Regions from separate parts of the Homo sapiens genome. Here region 1 is linked to region 2. Evidence: fine-mapped expression QTL. A gene starts in region 2. The other region holds a variant in brackets. All regions are shown on one strand. Distances are between the middles of the regions.

The links. PIP is the estimated chance that this variant, and not a neighbour inherited with it, causes the effect.
Region 1: its variant is fine-mapped to the expression of SERTAD4-AS1 in thyroid (GTEx, PIP above 0.99).

The regions. Positions count from the first base shown.
Region 1 is chr1:210,289,828-210,292,732 of GRCh38, reverse strand. LINC02602 (long intergenic non-protein coding RNA 2602) reads left to right here. Exons shown (of 2, transcript NR_183451.1): 2 at 2,211-2,395. Among named protein-coding and RNA genes, the nearest start is that of LINC02602, 1.9 kb to the left of the region's middle. The variant T/A (reference allele first, on the strand shown) is at 1,320.
Region 2 is chr1:210,232,575-210,235,479 of GRCh38, reverse strand. It overlaps SERTAD4-AS1 (SERTAD4 antisense RNA 1), which reads left to right and starts at 1,595. Exons shown (of 2, transcript NR_024337.2): 1 at 1,595-1,845. SERTAD4 (SERTA domain containing 4) reads right to left here and starts at 2,684. Exons shown (of 4, transcript NM_019605.5): 1 at 2,469-2,684. RefSeq lists an enhancer at 2,273-2,806.

The DNA of each region.
Region 1 (2,905 bases), 57 kb before region 2:
GTGGCAGCGCAGGCGTGGGAGGGACAGGTGGCCCGTTCGCGTCAAGTCAGGGCGCCCCCTCCTGGGACACCTGTGCCCCGCCTAGTCCCAGGGCCCAGTCCCGGGGCAGACACTGGCCGAGCCCGGAGCCTCTTCGCGTCCCCTCCCACCCAGACCAGGCCGGCGTTTCCCCCGGGCCCCCGCGCGGCTCCGGCCCGCGGAAGTCGCGCGTTCTTTCTTTCCCCCTCGTTAGTCGAGCTGAAACCTGATCGTGGAAAGTCTGGGGCGGGTGTCAGACCCGGCCAGCTCTGGCTCCCAGCGCCTGGGGCGATTCCTGCTGGAGGAACCCGGGCGGGGCCCGCCAAGGGGGCAGGAGGTCGGACACCTCGGGAACAGGCCTCTTTGTCTCTGTGCGGGTGAGGGGCTGGCAAAGCGGGAGAGGGAGTTAATTGCAGGGGCGGGGAGTGGTGGGGGGGCTGGGTAAGCCGAATGACACCTGACAGCTCTGCGAGAGCCCCCCAACCCCCGCCGCTGGGGGGTGGTCCTCCTAATCCCCTTCGCAAGAGGAAGCTAATTGCTGCAGCCAGAGAAGGCAGGATAAAAGCGAGCGGGCACCCACACCCACCAGGCCCGGAGTCTTGCTATTTGCTGCTAAATTAATATATTACCTAATGCAGAAACCACGTTAAGAACTCCAGCTTTCGGCTCCAACAGGAGCTTCTGATGGGTTAAAGGCAACATCTTGCTTTAATTCCCCCCTTTTTCCCATCCTCCCCCCACTCCCCACCACCACCAACTACAAATGTCAGAAATAAATTATTGAAACCAGATGTAAGGTTTTTGGGTGCACATTTTCAGGCAGTTGTGCGCTAACAGATGCCTTGTATTAATAATGTACAGTTGTGACAGGAAATATGGTTTAGAGTCCTGGAAAAACATGAAAGCTAATTCCATTACCCCTTTTCATGGTACCCAGTTCTTCTCAAATGTTCAACTGGTTTGGATTACAGTGAAATTCTAGAGGAAAAACGATTTGGTCTGAGATGGTAACTTGGTTCTGCTTTCCAGCTTCTCCCGTGGAACAGCACCCACCTTCCTAGGCACCTGCAGACCTGTGTTCTATATACGTGCAAATAGCCAGAGATGAGGACATCTGGACCTGGTGCCTCCCCAGGGAAGTGGCTTCCAAATATTCCCCCCTTTCCTGGTCATGAGGACCTGGTAGACAGTAAAAGCAGGGCCAATGATCCCAGCTTCATATTCTTGTCTGGGACAGTCCATTTTAACCTGGCCTACCCACTCACACTTCACTTGGAGCAAAAGTAAAAACAATAAAACAC[T/A]TTTATGCTCGAGGAACCAGATAAATCCTAGTAATTGATCTCAGGAGAGGGATTATTAAGGGGCTAAGTGCAATGCTTTCCAGAACCGGGGGTGTAATAAGCATGAAGCCAAACAAATGCGCAATTTGTTATCTGTATTTCATCACTTAATGCATTGCAAGCAACGGGTTTGAAAATGGCTTTTCTCCAGGAGGGGAGAAGGCACTAAAATAGCTGTAACACATCCATTGACAGTTCTGTTGCTGAAAAATGTCATCATTCTCCATGGCTCACACTGTCAGCCGTGCTCAGAAGGGTCAGAATATTCCCACTCTGCCATTTTTGGGGACAGATTCCCCTCCACTTTAGCCAATGTACAATGCTAAAAGAGACAACTCTCAAGGTCTTTCCCGCTGTAACCCTACACTTACGAAGAAATAACAAAGTAACCAGCAAGGATATCGAACTGCCCTGGACCCATAGATAAGAAAGGCTTTCCCTGTCCTAGACAAGAGTGAAGAAGGAAAGATATCAAAGATATCTACCGGTTCAGTTGGGTGAGACCTAAGAATTACAGCATCCAAAATAATAGCTAATCTTTATCAAGATCCTACTATCCTATCTGCTCTTACACCTGTGGCATCTAATCTTAACAATACCTGAGAAGGCAGGTGCCGTGCAATTATATCCTTGGTTATAGATGAGGAAACTGGGTTTTAGGGATGCTGGGTAATCTGCTGAAGGTTGCAGAGTTACTGGCAGAGCCAGCACTCACAATTTAATCTATTTAATTTTAAAGACTTTTAACAACCTCAACTATCATTTATTCTAATAGGTAAGGAAAGTATGCTATGAATTATGGGTAAATCCACACTGTGTCATTCTCTTAACGAAACTTTTTTTTTTTTTCAGGCTTGGTGTACAGTTGATGTCTAGAATATATTAACAGAAGGCTGCCCTGTAGAAGTTTTGAGTTAATGGTTTCCATCAACGCAGGAGTGGAAGAAGCTACTGGGGATCAGGAATCAGAAGTCCTGGCTTTAAGCCCTAGCTTTAGCCCTCACTGGTAATAAAATCAAAGCAATTGGTCTCTTTGACTTCAGTTTCTCCACTTTTAAGGTTGACCTGATAATACTTGCCCTGCTTGTGAAGAGCATGTGAAATAATAGCTATTCAAATTTTTACAAAGCACCAAGCAAATAGCTGTGTGACCTTGGGCATGTTCTTTTACTTTTCTGATCCTTATTTATCTTAACTGTGGGATTGAATGAAAGAGCATCCAACTTCACCTCCTGCTCTGAAACTGTACATTTCAAAGATGGGTGTTATGGCATAGTTTGTTGGAGCAAAAGCCAGGAAACAGAGGGTTGCCTCCCAAGAGGGAAAAGCTGAACACATTATTACACGTCCACACCATGGCATAGTATGTAACCAATGAACATGGAAAATCAGAGTATGCCAGATAGCTTGGAGGAGTTTCTATGAGGTGGTGTTGAGATGAGGAGAGAAAAGATGTATAAATGATCCCACATTGTAAAACAATAAACAGCATTCCCCTGGGTATGTGTATAGGTATATATTCTATACAGAATTACATAAAAAAAAAG
Region 2 (2,905 bases):
CAAGTGATTTATGTAAATCTGAATAAAACATGAATGAGTTGGGATTATTTGGGAGCGGGGAGGAGATTTTGCAATTGAGTCTTCCTAGTCTATTTAAAACTTACACTGGATGTTAACAAATTAAGAAGGCAAGTTGAATGTTCACGAAAAATTGGACAGGGCAGCGTTAAGCACAAATGCTTAACGTGAATCTTTCTTCGTATTATATGTAGAGATCTAAACTGTCATAATTCTCTGTCTGATAAGATTTATAATTCTGCTACTGACGTCAGCAATTCAAGTCCACAAATTCGTGTTCTATTAATATTAAATAAAGAAAAGGATATACATTATGGCAAAATTTATTTTCTAAGATCAGAGGTGATGGATTCAACAGGAGGGTGTTAGAGTGTGTTTTGTCTATGCATGGGTTTAAAAGATAAGAAAAAAAAAAGCCCTAACCCTTCATCCTCAGGCTCCTGAATGTCTGTTTTGACACCCAGGTGGATGTAGTGGAATGACACTTCCAGCATCCCCAGAAGACTGAGGGCTAGAATGCCAAGCTTTTCCAGCAAATGTTCGTAGTAAAGTTACCAGGCATTTCTATACAATTTGTTTTTTTCCAGATGAGTTGGGCTTGTTCTTTCCTAGAAGCAATTATGATGCTAATAGGAGTGGCTGGCACACAAAACAGGGTAGCTATGAATTCAGCGGCACCTTGAATCTAACAAGGGGCTCCAGGTCATTCTTTGCTCACTTCTTCTTCCATCTGTCATTGAAAATTGGAGAGCATTTGATTAAGATCATTATAGCAGTTAGCAGTCTGATTCCAGCACTGGAAAGCAGGGAAGTAAAGGGCTATTTCCACCCCCGATCGATGCTGCCAGTTTTAAATGGCATCAAGCCCCTGACCTCCACATTGTCCCAAAATGATCTCAATAGCTTGTCCGGCTCCTGGTGGTGGTAGTGGAAGGGACTGGATGGGCGGAACAAAATTCTTCAACCCTTCTAAACAAACAGATGTCGCTTTTCTGCCGTTCCTGCAGTACACCTGTCTGCCCTGGGAAGTACATTTCTCAGCTGCAGCCCCGCGAGGCCAAGAGCTTGAAGCTGGGTCCTGTGGTTGGGGCTGCAGGTGCTGGGCCTAAAGAGCACGAAGGGGTGCTCCGATGCCCGAGCCCTGGTGCCCAAGGTGTGTGTGTGTGTGGCGGTTGCGGGGGTGGGGTCCGAGGTTTGGAGGGCCGACCTCTTGAAGGCGGGCGGCAGCCACCAACCACATCCTGGCTCCCGCACAGACACACCCCCGGGGTGTCGGTGCCGCAGCCCTCAGCCCCTCCCCGGGTAGCCAGCAGCGCCCGGTCGGCCGCTGGCCGCAGGAGAAAGTAAACAACACCCCAAGTGTCCGGGAACAAAGGCAAGTTGTCTTTCTACGGTGCCGCAGCCGTGTGCCTCTTCTGAAGAATAAGAGCTATTATTATTCTTTATGTCTTATCCTTTTTTTTTTTTAAAAAAAAAACCAAGTTTCCTTCTAAGGGAAATAAACACCAAAGGTAGGATTCCAAGGAAATGACTCACAGCGGCTGGCAGGGCTCTGGCGGGGCTGGCCCGGGCCCCCGCGCTCCAGCCCGCAGCAGATGTCGGCCCGGCCTTCCCTCCCTCCCTTGCCGGCCAAACCCGCTGGAAGCCCGCGGTTGCGGGAGCGCCCTGCGCCCGTGGGACCTGGCGGCGAGGACGCCTATTCCCTGCTTCTGCGACCACAGCTGGGCACTCGGAAAGTTGCTAGGGCCGAAGAGGCGGGAGGGGAGGAAGGGAAGCGAGAGGCGGAGGCGTGGACCAGGCGGGCAGCAGCCTCAGCCCGCCGAGGAGGTGAGCTGAGGACAGAGGAGCCGCCGCCGCCCGCAGCGCAGCTCTGCTGCCTGGGAGGAGGGTGCGGGGGCGGAGGTGGCGGGGGACAGAAGGTGTCAGCTACTGCATCAATTCCTTTTTCTTGCAAACGCGCGCTCCTGACATCCACAATCCCTCTCTCCCCACCTGCCAAGCGCCGCGGCATCCGGACCTGGGGGCACCCCTCCTACTTAACCCCTTCCCCTACGATGAGGGACTAAGCGGCCACGGAGGACCATGAGGTCTCACCAGAGCTTCTGACCCCACCCGCCCCTGGAGTTGTCTCGGTGCGCGCGGGTGGCAGCCCGAGCAGCCCTAGAGGAGGCGGCGGTTCCCGCCCTGGTGAAGGCGCCGCGGCGCACGCTAGCCCAGGGAAAAGCCCGCGCCGCCTCCGCGCCCAGCTGTGCCTTGGCCCCCACGCCGCCCCGACTCCGCTCCGGCCGCTGCGAGTCCACTCGGTGACCTCGGCACAGCCCTGGTGCCAAGAGGGCGCGCGGGAGGCCGCGTGGGTGCCCGTCTGCGAGGGCAGGAGCCCCGGGGGGCCCTCGCCCTCCACCCTGCCCGGCCCTCCCGCCCCCGCGGCCCGCGCCCAGCCCGGCTCTTACCGCGGGGTCAGCGGGGAGGCGGCGGCCGCAGCGCTTGAGCTGCTGCTGGTCCGCTCTGGGCTCGGCGCCAGCCCGGCCGCCGGTGCACACTCGCGGGTCCCGGCCCGGCCGCCCGCTCGGCGGTGACTGCGGGTGCGCGGCGGGCAAGGGTCCCGGCAGGTCCCGCCGCCGCGACTGGGGCGCTGCGCCGCCGTCGCTGCAGACGGTTATGGTAATGAGCGGCTCTGTCTAGCGAGGAGCGTGTGAAACCCGTCAATCCTGTTTGCCATTTCCCCGTGGATTTCCGAGGAGAGGTTCTGCAGGATGCCCCCAGGGTGAGAGAGGGAACATGACAAGCGCGCCCGCTCTCCCTCCCTCCCTCTGCTCAGGCCGCCGCCGCCGCTCCTCAGGCTGCACACGGGGCGCCTTTCCCGCACCCCCACCCCAGCCCGCCCCCT